4 linked regions of the Homo sapiens genome follow. The protein of the gene in region 1 interacts with the protein of each later gene in a pairwise test. Each region holds a gene or a part of one and is shown on either strand. Other genes may lie near its edges.

Region 1 (3,927 bases):
GCTCCTAGAGTGAAGGGGCTCAAAGATGGGGAAGAACTCAAGGGGTGAGAGAAGTGAAGGGAGAGGCTCAGAGAGGCTGTGGAGGCGTTGAGAGGGAAGGCCAGCTCAGCGAGGCCAGGAGGCTGGGGTGCAAATGAAGGGCTGCCTCACCTTGCCCCTCTTTGATTCCTCAGGGGTGTGGAGAGAGAGCCCTCAAGCTCAAATGCAGAGGCTGCTTCAGCTGGGTTGGGAGCAGTCCCCAAGTCAGAGGCTGAGGCTTCTGCCCAGGTCTTGGGTCTCCTGGGTAGCACTTCTCCCTCTGAGGAATGGAGTGATTGATGCTGCAGTTGGATTTGCTCACTTGCATGCCCAGAGACATGTCTATTCTTATGGGTGCACACGTTTGCACATGCACAAATGTGCAACACATCTGTGTGCAAAATATGCACATATCACACATATGTACTGCATGGATTGCACAGTGCCACATGTGTGTGCACACCAACCCATATCCACACATGTGCAATATGACACACTATATATTTGCACATAGATGTGCACACACATGCACATACACACTACACACATGCGCACATCACAAGGGGACACTCGGAAACACATTCACAGGCACCCACACCCTTGGCTCCAGCCTCAAAAGTGTCTCTGTGTTTTTCTGCGGGACTGTGGGGACACTGCCACCTCCAGAGGCCTGACCCCCTCCTGTCACTCTCACTCTTTTGACTGGCTTGTTTTGCTCATTGCACTTGGCACCCTCTGCATCCATCTGATTCCTTGTTGGCACTCTGTCCCCTTTCACATGGGGACCTTGTCTATGTCTCCCAGTATCCCTCCTCCCAGGTCTAGGCTGGCATGAAGTGGGTGGCACATTGTGAATTAATGTCTGTGAGTGTGTATACAAGAGAGGAGATTACTGGGAAGGGTGACGTGGTGAGGCGGGCTTGCCAGTGCAGGGTGACCCTGAGGGTGTGCCCAGTGGCGTGGGTGTGTCTGTGATTGTGGCCAGGCGGGGCACCCTCGGAGGGGAGGGTTCGGAAGTGGAATGCGACCCCCCAGCCTCTTTCCCCTAGGGGCTGTAATCTGATCCCTGGGGACTCCCCCCCTAGCCTCCCGCCCTCGCCCTCACTGCTGACTCCTCTTCCAGATCCTGGGGCAGAGTCCAGGGCAGCTCAAGGCTCCTCCACACACACACCCGCTGAACCCTGAGCACCCTGAGCTGCTGAGATGGGGCGGGCCGGGGCTGCCGCCGTGATCCCGGGCCTGGCCCTGCTCTGGGCAGTGGGGCTGGGGAGTGCCGCCCCCAGCCCCCCACGCCTTCGGCTCTCCTTCCAAGGTAGGTGCACCTGGCAGGCGGGAGGGCCCAGCTTGAGGTGGGCAGGAAAGGGTCCCCGTATGGCCAGGGGGCTCTGTGTTGGCTGTTGCCCCATGTGCGTGCCTGTCACCAGACTCTGGTAGGATTAGTGGGCACTCTCAGGCCACCTCCAGTTAACCCTGTCCGGGCCTCAGCCCCCAGCCTCTGCCCACATTCTCTTCGTGCTTTCTCAGGAAGACCCCTCCTGTCCCCACAGCAACAGACCTTGTCTCTGTTCCGTTCAGTACCCCCAACAAGGCGATACTCCTTCAGCAGAGCAACAGGGAAGTCAGAGCCCCCTTCTCATGCCTCCTGTATAGGAGGGTGGCCCCTGGGCAGTGGCAGTGAATAGGCAGTTCTGCTGAGCTCAGGCTGGTGGTGGAGTGGCAGGAAAGGAACTCTCAGCCTGACTTTTGGGAGTTGGGGTTCTGGCCATCCCTGCATGCCAGTCTCCCCCAGGACTCTGGTGTCCATAAGCCTTGCCTCCCAGTGCGCCCGCCTGGAGACACCACCTGTCTGAGCATGCCCAAGTTCAACCTGCCTTCCTCTTCCTGGGGGGATGTACCACCTACCCTGGCAGCTCCACACGTGCACCTGGGTGGGCTTGGGTTTGCGTGTGTAAACTCACACACATGTAAACTCACATGTGTACAGGCCAGGTCCTAATGGCAACCTTGGCCGATAGAGTCACCACCAGGCAGGACCTGGGGGAGGCTTCCAGCATGGCTGGCGAGTCATCAGCAGTGTCCTGCCCTGCAGAGCTCCAGGCCTGGCATGGTCTCCAGACTTTCAGCCTGGAGCGAACCTGCTGCTACCAGGCCTTGCTGGTGGATGAGGAGCGTGGACGCCTGTTTGTGGGTGCCGAGAACCATGTGGCCTCCCTCAACCTGGACAACATCAGCAAGCGGGCCAAGAAGGTGCCAGGGACTCCCAACCCCAGCACTCCCCAGGGAAGGAGCCCTGGGACCCCACTCCAGCCTGGAGAGACCCAGAGGAATGGCTCCCTGAGGTAGAGAATATCCCAAGTTCCTGACCTGTGTCCCCTCTCCCCCAACCTCCCGATAGCTGGCCTGGCCGGCCCCTGTGGAATGGCGAGAGGAGTGCAACTGGGCAGGGAAGGACATTGGTGTGAGTGCCAGCTGCCCGGGCCGGGAGTGGGGAGGGTCAGCCCCTCACCCCAGAGACAGGGCAGGGCTAAAACAGAGGCCTGCCTGTTCTGGCTGGGATGAGGGCAGGGAGGTCGAGGTGGCTGAGGTCTGGGGGTGGTGAGTCAGGGTGGGGGCTCGTGTAATTCTTCTGGGGTGCCTCTGAGTCATGGGAGGCTTTGCAGGCCTGTGCTTCCCCAGACACCCACCCTCGTGAGGCCTGGGCTGGTCAGCAAGGGCCCCCAGGTCCCTGTAGCCCATGTTAGTACTTGCCTGGGCTGATGCCGAAGAGAGGGAGGGGTGAGGATGCCACTGGTGAGCTGGGACCTCTTAAGGCTACGTCCCTGGGGGAAGCCTCACACCTCCAACCCTACTAGACTGAGTGCATGAACTTCGTGAAGTTGCTGCATGCCTACAACCGCACCCATTTGCTGGCCTGTGGCACGGGAGCCTTCCACCCAACCTGTGCCTTTGTGGAAGTGGGCCACCGGGCAGAGGTAAGGCCGGATCTAGGCAGGGAGGGAGGTCAGGAGGGTAAGAAGGGCCTGGTAGTCACAACTTGCCACACCTCCCAGGAGCCCGTCCTCCGGCTGGACCCAGGAAGGATAGAGGATGGCAAGGGGAAGAGTCCTTATGACCCCAGGCATCGGGCTGCCTCCGTGCTGGTGGGTGAGTCCAAGGGCTAAGGCCCCAAGAGAACCCCTTAGAAACTCTAGAACCTCACAAAGTCCCAAGACCCCCAAGAGCTCCAGGGAATCCCCCATAACCTCACTCACTCCCAGAGCTCCCCAGGCCCTCCTGCCCCAAGAGCCCTCCATTTGCCTGAGTGGCCCTTGCTCTGTCTGCAGGGGAGGAGCTATACTCAGGGGTGGCAGCAGACCTCATGGGACGAGACTTTACCATCTTTCGCAGCCTAGGGCAACGTCCAAGTCTCCGAACAGAGCCACACGACTCCCGCTGGCTCAATGGTGAGAGGCTGGTGGGGTTGGTGGGTAGAGGTCGTCACCCTCCCACAGGGCAGGTGCCAAGCAAGGCCCATAAAGTAAGTGAGCAGTGGGTGTGGCCAGGTCTTACCAAATACCCTCCTTAATCAGGCACTGGCGTCACAGAGACAGACAAGACAGGTATGACCGTGACCTCTTTGAGTTCACAGATCACATACATGATAAGATCAAGTCCAATGGCCTTGAGGCCAGAGAGAGACAAGGGAGGAAGGGAAAAGGAGACTGGGTGGCTGGAGGGGGTTGGGTAAAGGAAGCCGCTGTGCTGAGGGGAGTATGAGCTAATTCCCAAGCACAAGACAGCTAGCCAGCAAAATTTAGGGATGAGCATTCCAGGCAGAGGGAGCATTCCAGGCAGAGGGAGCAACTAGTGCAAAGGCCTGGATGCAAGAACAAGCAAAGGAATAGACTTGCAGAGCTAGCAATGAAAAGG
Region 2 (2,347 bases), on another chromosome or scaffold:
GTCGCTTCCACTTAACAAACAGTAAATATAAATTCTCTTCCTTATTATTTTCATAACATTTTCTTTTCTCTTATTTACTTTATTGTAAGAATACAGTATATAATGCATATAAAACACAAAGTATGTGTTAATCAACTGTTTATGTTATCAGTGAGGCTTCCAGTCAACAGTCGGCTACCAGTAGTTAGGTTTCTGGAGAGTCAAAAGTTATATGTGGATTTTCAACTGCATGGGGGAATCAGTACTGCTAACCCCTACATTATTCAAGGGTCAACTGTGACCTTTGAATGTGAATATATACATGCACACACATACATACAGCTATATAGATAGGTGCATGTATATACAAAATTATTTTGTTATATATAATATACTTCTATATGTATAGTAGTTTGTTCTTTTTTCACTGGATATAATTACAAATAACCACTTTGCCATTTTGAGTCAAGCAAAAAACAAAAGTCGTGTATTTGCTTTCAGTTAGCATAATTTATTCTAAAAGGAACAGAGAAACCCCACAGTTATAAAGGTACAAGTAAGACACATCCAGAGACATAAAGCAAAGAATTATGGAATGATAGGTATTCTTAAACCTCTTAGATGCTAACTGCTCTTGATCTTGGCTTGATCCAGGGTGACCTCGTTTGTTTGTTATTGCAGTCAGGTTTGGGTGATCTTCTTATGTCCCCTCATGTTAGGTTGTCAGGGAAGGATTTCAATAAAATCCAGAGAATCCATATCCTCCATAGCATGATGGACGGCAGCTGCGGTATCCATAGCCTCCGAAGCCAGAGCCGTATCCGTAGCCTCCGTAGCCACCGCCATAGCCCAGTCTGCGGAAGCTGCCACATCCACAGCCATAGCCATAGCCCAGGTCATCGAAGCCTCCGTAGCCGTAGCCCAGGCCTCCATAGTAGTTGCCGTAGTAGTTCATGGTGTCAGGAGTGGTGAGTTGGTATGCTGCTCAAGGCAAGATCCTGAGTGTGAACACCAGCATGTGTAGGAGGCTTATATACCCTGGTCAGAGCGTGTGATGAGTCATCTGTATACCCTCCTTTGCTATAGTTATTTGTATTACGTTTGATGTTACAACTCATTTATCTATTGTCTTCTGATGTAGGGAGATGCCCTCATTCTCATTAAAATATTTCAGCTTACTTAATGTCTTATTCAGGACACGATTGAACTTACTGCTTTGCTTTTATGAAAAGAAAGGGCTTACTGTTCAAAATATGCACATTCCAAATGCTCAACAGAATTGCCTATTACCAGGTGTATTACATCATCTACACTTTATGGTATTCCTTTTATAATGAATAATTTCCTTTGTCCGTCATCTTCCAAACTGATAACTTCATATTCAACTAAATTTACAGCTGTTTTTTCAATTTACAGATGTTAAATCTATAGTTTTAAAAAGCAAACTTATTTATCAAGGTGAGGTCTTCAGAAAGTGCCTATATGCACAATACAGGAAAACATTTGAAATCAAAATGATTTTAATGCCCTGCTGTGTACAATCGCCAAAGGACTCAAAAAAAGAGAGTGTATGCTGATTTTTAGCATTTTATTCACAATAACTTTTATACTATTTTTGACTTTGCACACCAGCTTCAGAACCTTTTGGTTGCAAAATACATAAGAATTAATTTCAGAAATTGAGGGCACAAAATCCATCTCCTACGCAGACTTATCAGAGTAGCACTTTAGTTTTCCATTCAAGTCCTAAAACTCTCCTTTATAATTGGTTTTATTCAAAGTCCTGGTAAAATTGCAGATTGCATCTGCCTCTGTTTTGCACATTCTAGTCAATTACTTTCTTTCTTTATCATTTTTCAGTAGTGTATATATGACCTCTATTTCCTTTCTCATTTCAGCTTTTATTCTTCTTCCCATTTTCTTAATGTCTATAGAAACAGCCAGGTAGAAGTTTATTGCATACATTCCCTCTGTCTTCCATCGACTTATCTCAACGCTTTTTTTTTTCTATCTCCTCTTTGTATTCACTGTAACATCTTTCCTGATTTTTTTGTTTGTTTGTTTTTTGAGACGGAGTCTCACTCTGTCGCCCAGTCTGGAGTGCAGTGGCACCATCTCGGCTTACTACAAGCTCCGCCTCCCGGGTTCACGCCATTCTCCTGCCTCAACCTCCCCAGTAGCTGGGACTACAGGCGCCCGCCACCACGCCTGGCTATTTTTTTTGGATTTTTAGTACAGACGGGGTTTCACCATGTTAGCCAGAATGGTCTTGATCTCCTGATCTCGTGATCTGCCCGCCTCGGCCCCGCAAAGTGCTAGGATTACAGGCGTGATTCTGATGTTCTTCTATGTCTATCCTGTACTCATT
Region 3 (3,500 bases), on another chromosome or scaffold:
AGCCCAAGTCACAGGGACGATCAAGAGCGGCAGCAGGATTGGAATCCAAGGGCTGCCAGTGTCTACAGATCTTAATCTTCCAATAGTTGCATAAAACAGGGGCGAGGCAATTGCTCCTCCCACCTCACTCCTGTTCCCCTCTCAAGCAATCACCCCAGCTCCACCCACTGCAGGCAGCTACAGTACCTGTTGAGGAAGTCCAGGCCACAGCCCCGAGCCAGGAGGCCTTCCGGCTTTCCCAAAGGCCACACGCTGTCAGAGGATGAGGACGAAGAGAGGCCAGGGGACCAGGGCTTAAGTGTCACACTCCCTGGGGAAAAAGAATGAGGTTCAGGGATCTGGCACTGGGAAACAGGGATGGCCAGGGTCCATGACAGGGACTGACCCCCCTCCAGCCCAGAGAGGCCTTGGCAGGTTTGAGGCCCCAGGAGCACATCAGACCCACTGGGCTCAGAGATAGGTCAGGGCCCACCAGGCTGACCCCGCAGTTTCCCAGAAGAGGGTGAAAGGTGGCCCAGAACTGAAGAGCCTCGTACATCACAGCCGGGAACAGGAGTGAGGCCCAGGACTGGGCTCGGGGTGAGAGGCTGGAACCAAAGTCCCCAGGGTCCTCCCAAGCACAACCTTCCTGCCTGGCAGGGGCCACGGCGGGGCTTCAGGGAAGGGGATGCAGGCCAAAGGTAGCGCAGGTGGTGCAGGCTTCAGGTGGGCTGCAAAGCCACCTCCCCCGACCAGAGGAGCCCTCCCCACGGAACTCAAGGGCTGTTACCTGTGATGTCTGACATGCTGCTGAAGGATCTGGGCAGAGAGAGGGCAGGGAGGGGGCAGGAGGTGAGGCACAGTGGGCACTCTGCCCCGCTCCCTCCTCCTGCCCCCACACCAGATAAATGTCTCACAGCCCCCAAGCAAATGCAGGCTAGACTCAAGGCAGGGTCCCAGGTACAGGGCACCCATGCCACCTGGCTCCCCTAAACTCCCAGGGTAAGAAGTTAATGTCCTGGCCTCTGTCCAATGTTGTTCCACCTACAATGCCCTGGCATGCCCTTCAAAGCCAGCTCTTTCAATGCCACCTCCTCCTGGAAGCCACCCCTGATCTCTCACCCCTCACCTCACCCTCACTTGCCACCTTTGTGGTTTGTGACTCCCAGGTACGCCTCCTAAATTAAACCATGACCTCCTCATCAGACACCTCCTTGGGACAGATTTACGCAGATCAAGGCCATACTGACCACAGCCTCCCAGGGCCCAGCCTCTCACCAGTAAAGGAATAAATCAAGGGCTGCTTACAGGGGAAAAGCAGTGACAAGGATCGCGCCCCAGGAGGCAGGCTATCTCCCGCCCTTGGTCTTGCCACCAGAGGGTGCGCCTTGGTTTTTCTGGTCCCTATTTGCTGCTGATGCCCAAACCTGGGGCCTGGCTTTCTTGCCGGAGGTCCCTGATACCTTGAAACATTCTCCACGCCCCCTAGTCCTGAACCATCAAGCTTCTCCTTGGGTATAGGATCTTCAAGGCTTGACCCCCAGTGACCCTCCTGCCAGGATGCTTGGCTAGGACTGAGTTCGCTCTGCCCATCGGCCTTATCTTAAGCCTGACCTTGGTCGCCCCTGTGACTCACAGGACCTGGGTTTCCAGAGCTCCAGCCATCTGAGGGCAATAAAGGGAAGTGACTGCCTGGACCTGACTTTGGCATTGCAGATTCTGGGAGGTGGCTGTTCGGGAAACGGCAGCCCCACCTCCCTGGGTGTCTACTGCTATCCCCAGCCATCTCACCTCTTAGGGGGTGCGGGGTCTTCCTCACGCTGCCGGCGGAGGATGGAGCCGGCACTGGGGGGGAAGGGCAGGATGGAGAGCCGATTGATCTCCTTTTCACTGTCTGTGGCTTCCTCCTGCAATGCCATGACAGGGCCTGGGTCACCCCCACTGCCCAGCACCATCCCAGTCCTCAGCACACCTGGTTTGTGCCCATTCCACAAATGAGAAGTAGGGCCCAGAGCAGAAGAGCGGGCTCTGCAAGATTATAGTGTGCGGGTGGCTCCCCACGCCTCCTGGCACCTATGCCTGGCAAGGAAATGGTTCTGGGTGAGCTTCAGTAAAGTACTTGGCCTCCCTGCGCCTCAGTGTCCTCACCTGTGAAATGGATCCTTCAGAAAGCACTCTCCACATTAGTAATAATGCTATAGCAGTGTCCCCCCTTATTTGGGATGGGGCAGTTGTCTTACCGAGTTGTGAGGCTCAGGTCCCCCCATGACAGCTGCCTCCCCAGTTGCTTCTGGGCCTCCCAGAGGGGAGGGGAACTCGCTCAGGCTCCAAGTGCTGCTGAGGTTGGAGCACAGGGAATGGGAGGAGGCACAGGCCTGGAAGAGGGAGAGGAGAGGAAGGAGGTGAGCAGTGCTAGGCCCACGTCAACCACAGTCCTTTACTGAGCACCTGCCATGTGCCAGCACAGGGACAGATCCCTGTCCTCAGGGAGCTCACAGCCTAGAATGGGAGATAAACTGTAAACCAGCAGACATGTGAACAAAATAGCCCCAAGCTGAGACAATAGCAGAAGGAAGGTGCCCAGGGCATGGAAAACACACAAAGACCCCACCCAGCCTGGGAGTCCAAGTACTCTCCAAAGAAACTGTGGTTTGAACTGAGAACTCAAGGGTATAGAGGCGCTAAGTAGGTCAAGCTGGGATGGTCCAGGCAGATCAACAGCATGTGCAAAGGCCCTGAGGCAGGACTGTGATGCATTCCAGTTGAAAGACTGGAACCCACAGAACCAGGCGAGAGGACAAGAGGAACCCCACCCGCAGGGCCTCTTGGCCATGAAAAGGGACTCTGTCTTTACCAAACAGCAAAAAAGCCACTGGGGGTTAAAAAAAAAAAAAAGTCTTGGATTAATGCTGACTTTTCCTATATTCCTCCAGGCCCCAGTGCTTCAAACACCAGGCCTGCGGAGCTCACTGTCAGGCAACTCAAAATAAGAAAACGCAGGCTGGGCGTTCGCACCTCTAATCCCAGCACTTTGGGAGGCTGAGGCAGGAGGATCCCTTGAGGTCAGGAGTTTGAAACCAGCCTGGCCAACATGGTGAAACCCCCATCCCTACTGAAAATACAAAAAAAAACTTAGCTGGGTATGGTGGCAGGCACCTGTAGTCCCAGCTACTAGGGAGGCTAAGGCACGAGAATAACTTGAACCTGGGATCCAGCCTGGGTGATACAGCAAGATTCTGTCTCAAAAAAAAAAAAAAAAGGAAAAAGCAGAGCTCCCGGCAGCAGCCTGAGGACCACGATCCAATTTACAGTGGGTCTGGGACTCCAGCTCCAGTGCTAGCTGGCTGTGTGGCCTTGGGCAAGCCCCTCACCCTCTCTGGGCCCTGTGCGATGAGAGGATTAGACCAGCTGGTCTCTGAGGGATGCTTAGGCCCATGTTAGTCCTGACTAGCTGGTCTCTGAGGCCCAGGTTTTGCATTCTAACATGCACACAGGCACTCAGGCAGCCAGCCTTCCCCAGT
Region 4 (3,500 bases), on another chromosome or scaffold:
TGTCAATGAGTGTGACATTCCAGGACACTGCCAGCATGGTGGCACCTGCCTCAACCTGCCTGGTTCCTACCAGTGCCAGTGCCTTCAGGGCTTCACAGGCCAGTACTGTGACAGCCTGTATGTGCCCTGTGCACCCTCGCCTTGTGTCAATGGAGGCACCTGTCGGCAGACTGGTGACTTCACTTTTGAGTGCAACTGCCTTCCAGGTAAGGAGCTCCCTAGTGTCCCAGGATTAGGGGACAAACCCCTAGCACAGGAGGTAGTGGGTGTGGCTCAATTGCTTTTTTTAGGAAGCGCAAGGAAAAAGGGAAGTGAGAATTTTGTGTGGGGTGGGTTGCTAGTGAGGGAGGAGTTTTATGGGCCCACTGTGGTCCATAAACTGAGCAGGGGATAATTTAGCATGTCAGGGTTTATGATGATGAGTGGCTAGAAAATTGTTTATTGTCCCTTTTGTAGAAACAGTGAGAAGAGGAACAGAGCTCTGGGAAAGAGACAGGGAAGTCTGGAATGGAAAAGAACACGATGAGAATTAGACACTGGAAAATATGTATGTGTGGTTAATAAAGTGCTTTAAACTGAATTGACATTAACAGTAGGTGATCAACTTTACTATGTGCTTGTGCTTTTGCTTTTGATGGAGTAATTCATTGTTTTCTTATCCACCTAAATGCACCCAGCTGCCCTTGATTTTCTCTGGGCTACTGGCCTTCACAACCCTCTCCCATGTACCCTCTCTGACTTTGGGGTAACCCTCCCCTAACTTAAAGCTAGAGAATTCTGAAACTGAGGAGGGGATCCTCTGTTAATCAGTGAGCACTTTTTGATGAGCTGATAGATGATATATGAGAGACTATGCGTGGCACAATACTTTGTTACACTCTTCACTGATACAAGTGTTCTAGAGTGCACACACAACCCAAAGATAGAAATAAAAAGAGGAGCAGTGTCGGGGAGCTTGGGGCCTGGTGTTCCATGGAGAGGGAGAAAGGAACAAGCTTGGCCAATTCATTCAACTCCTTATAAAAATGATGAGGAGGCTGAAAACCAAGAATTTTGATTGGGAACAGAATACAAGCAGCTGAAGCAGATGAATTACTAAGCAACAAAGATCCTGTTTTTATACAAATATCCTTAGTACAAAAACAAAAGAAGGAAAACTGTAGGGGGGAGTAATGTGCTAAGTAAGCAGAATTGCCTCCAAAAGAAGTTGTTCTAGTTACTCTTTCAGAGTGGGAATCTTAGATTCTGGTATTGTGGATATGGTTCACATATAATGGGATTGTGTGTTTTATTTTGGAGGAATTAAAGGTCATAGTTTGGTCCTCAGTATAAAATCAACTGGTAATTTGTTCATTTCATTTGGTAAAAATGTATTGACTGCCTGCTATGTTCTAGGCACCATGCTGTGTATTTGGAATACAGCTATACAAAGCATTGTCACATAATTGAAATGAAAATTTTATATTATTTAAGTCACAAGAACAAGCTATTTAATTATATTACTTTTAGTTTCTCTTTTAATAAAGAATAGATAATGCTATCATTCTAGATACTAAATAAGTATTTTCTTAACATAATATTACTATCCACTTTATCTTGTAGAAGAAATAACTAAAATACATCTGTCTTCACTCCTGTATTTGTTTGCATTTTAAGGATTAAAGACAGAAATAGAAATGTAAACAACTTTATTTTGAAAATATTTCAACACTGCAAATATCTCTGGGTCTGATATTCTAGTAATCTAATTGGCTAGTAATTGATGTTAGTGTGATTTATTGTTGAAGGCTAAATGTGTTTTTCAGTTTCAAGAAAATTGCTTTTAATAATTGCCTAGAACAAGAGGTTGATTTGGCAGCAAGATGTTGACGGGAAGTTAGAGAAGTCAATAAAGGAAGTTTTTAGCTGAGAGAGAGTGATTATTCACTCCCATAGCCTCTGCATTGTTATCCATTAGCCACGATAAGAACCTTAGGGAATTCTGAGAGTGTGTCCAGGAAAGGATCTGTCAAACTAGAATAGTATCTCCTCCTTGAGAAAGGAAATAACCAAGGATTCCGCAGCTGAGAGGCTGCCAGGGCTAGTGAAATAGAGTAAGGAAATCTTGGCTGTCTCTTATTCTCTGGTTGTAGTTTAACGCAAGACACTTATTTACTCACTGATGGTGTGTGTGTGTGTGGGAGGGGAGATTAGCATGAGGGGTGGGAATGGGGAGATTTGATGAAGAGAAAACTAACATTTTTTTGGTGACTCAGGAACTGTGCCAGGTACTTCCATGCTTATTAGCTCAATTACACAAAAATCTTGGGACCAGGTATTATTTTTCAAGTCTTCCCACATGAAGTAACTGAAGTTTGGAGATGTTAAGTGATTCACCCAAAGTTGTACAGCTAATATGTGGTTAGGCTGGGTCCTGAAACCGAGGCAGTTTATTTTCAAAGCCTTTGCTTTGTGCATCTTACTGCGCCACATTGCACTGCACATCTGCTTCCTGAAAGCACTTTGTAGGTGTGTAAAACTTTTCGTTAAATGCTTTAAGCTGTTTGGGTTAAAAATATATGTTCATGTTATAAGAAAACCAAGACACTCCTAATTATAATCAAATAGTACTTGTTACATATCAATATGTGTGTGTGTGTGTGTGTGTGTGTGTGTGGTATATATATATATATCGCATTGTGCAGATGTTTAAAAGTAGTTACATAGACTAGTTCTTGCTTTTCAGGGTCCCATAATCTAAACCAGATGACTTCAGCTTTGGATAAATATATAGAAGGAAATTTAAAGAGAATTCAAAACAATAGATGATGCAGTGACACTGTGAATAAATGTTATTTATACAGTTTGTAAGATTTCATGCTCATTGTTCGTATGTCCCAGGTGGAGTTCAGAAAATATTCAGTTCATTTCCACAAAGGGAAATAGTGCCTAGAGATGGTTTTCTTTTAAAAAGTCCTTTTCATAATGCAGTGCCCTTCCTTCCATTGCCCTTCATTCCATTGCTTCCCATGCTTGTCAAGAGACTAAAATGTTACTTATAGTAATAGTCACTATCTCAATGTAAATAGCACCCTTATTTGATGAGAATTATTATTTCAGTTCTAAAAATGGGGAAACAAAGTCAGCAGGAGGCAAAGTAGCTTGTTAAAGTATTCTGCAACTTTCAAATGGTTGCTTCCACTGCATTTCACGTCTTGGCACTTCTAATTGAGGGTTACTCTAACCACCCTATTTAAAATTGTAACTGTCCCCCACCCCCTTAATTACTAACCCTGGTCTACTTTTTGTTTTCTTTTTCTGTAACTCTTATCTTCTTACTATATAATTTATACTATATAATTTACTTCATTATGTCTATTGTTTATTGTCTGTCTTTTCCAAATTCTACTGCCTCTTACCCTCTCCAGAATGAAAACTAGTATCTTTGTTTTTGTTTACTGATGTAACCCAAACACCTACAAACAGTGCCCAGTATATACTAGGCCCGCAAATATATATTG

The links. The genes of interacting proteins can lie anywhere in the genome.
Region 2: the proteins of SEMA3B (region 1) and KRTAP19-5 interact in binary tests that used the Homo sapiens proteins (3 or more experiments, as listed by UniProt).
Region 3: the proteins of SEMA3B (region 1) and CARD10 interact in binary tests that used the Homo sapiens proteins (3 or more experiments, as listed by UniProt).
Region 4: the proteins of SEMA3B (region 1) and NOTCH2NLC interact in binary tests that used the Homo sapiens proteins (3 or more experiments, as listed by UniProt).

Annotation. Positions count from the first base shown.
Region 1 is NC_000003.12:50,268,020-50,271,946, forward strand, and holds the start of SEMA3B (semaphorin-3B isoform 1 precursor), read left to right. Parts: upstream 1-1,127; 5' UTR 1,128-1,221; coding exon 1,222-1,330; intron 1,331-2,107; coding exon 2,108-2,265; intron 2,266-2,413; coding exon 2,414-2,476; intron 2,477-2,870; coding exon 2,871-2,990; intron 2,991-3,068; coding exon 3,069-3,162; intron 3,163-3,341; coding exon 3,342-3,461; intron 3,462-3,927. UniProt on the Homo sapiens protein: Inhibits axonal extension by providing local signals to specify territories inaccessible for growing axons.
Region 2 is NC_000021.9:30,501,157-30,503,503, forward strand, and holds KRTAP19-5 (keratin-associated protein 19-5), read right to left. Parts: upstream 986-2,347; 5' UTR 935-985; coding exon 716-934; 3' UTR 501-715; downstream 1-500. UniProt on the Homo sapiens protein: In the hair cortex, hair keratin intermediate filaments are embedded in an interfilamentous matrix, consisting of hair keratin-associated proteins (KRTAP), which are essential for the formation of a rigid and resistant hair shaft through their extensive disulfide bond cross-linking with abundant cysteine residues of hair keratins.
Region 3 is NC_000022.11:37,502,416-37,505,915, forward strand, and holds part of CARD10 (caspase recruitment domain-containing protein 10), read right to left. Parts: intron 2,355-3,500; coding exon 2,220-2,354; intron 1,887-2,219; coding exon 1,771-1,886; intron 799-1,770; coding exon 770-798; intron 311-769; coding exon 187-310; intron 1-186. UniProt on the Homo sapiens protein: Scaffold protein that plays an important role in mediating the activation of NF-kappa-B via BCL10 or EGFR.
Region 4 is NC_000001.11:149,463,621-149,467,120, forward strand, and holds part of NOTCH2NLC (notch homolog 2 N-terminal-like protein C), read left to right. Parts: coding exon 1-206; intron 207-456; coding exon 457-533; 3' UTR 534-3,500. UniProt on the Homo sapiens protein: Human-specific protein that promotes neural progenitor proliferation and evolutionary expansion of the brain neocortex by regulating the Notch signaling pathway.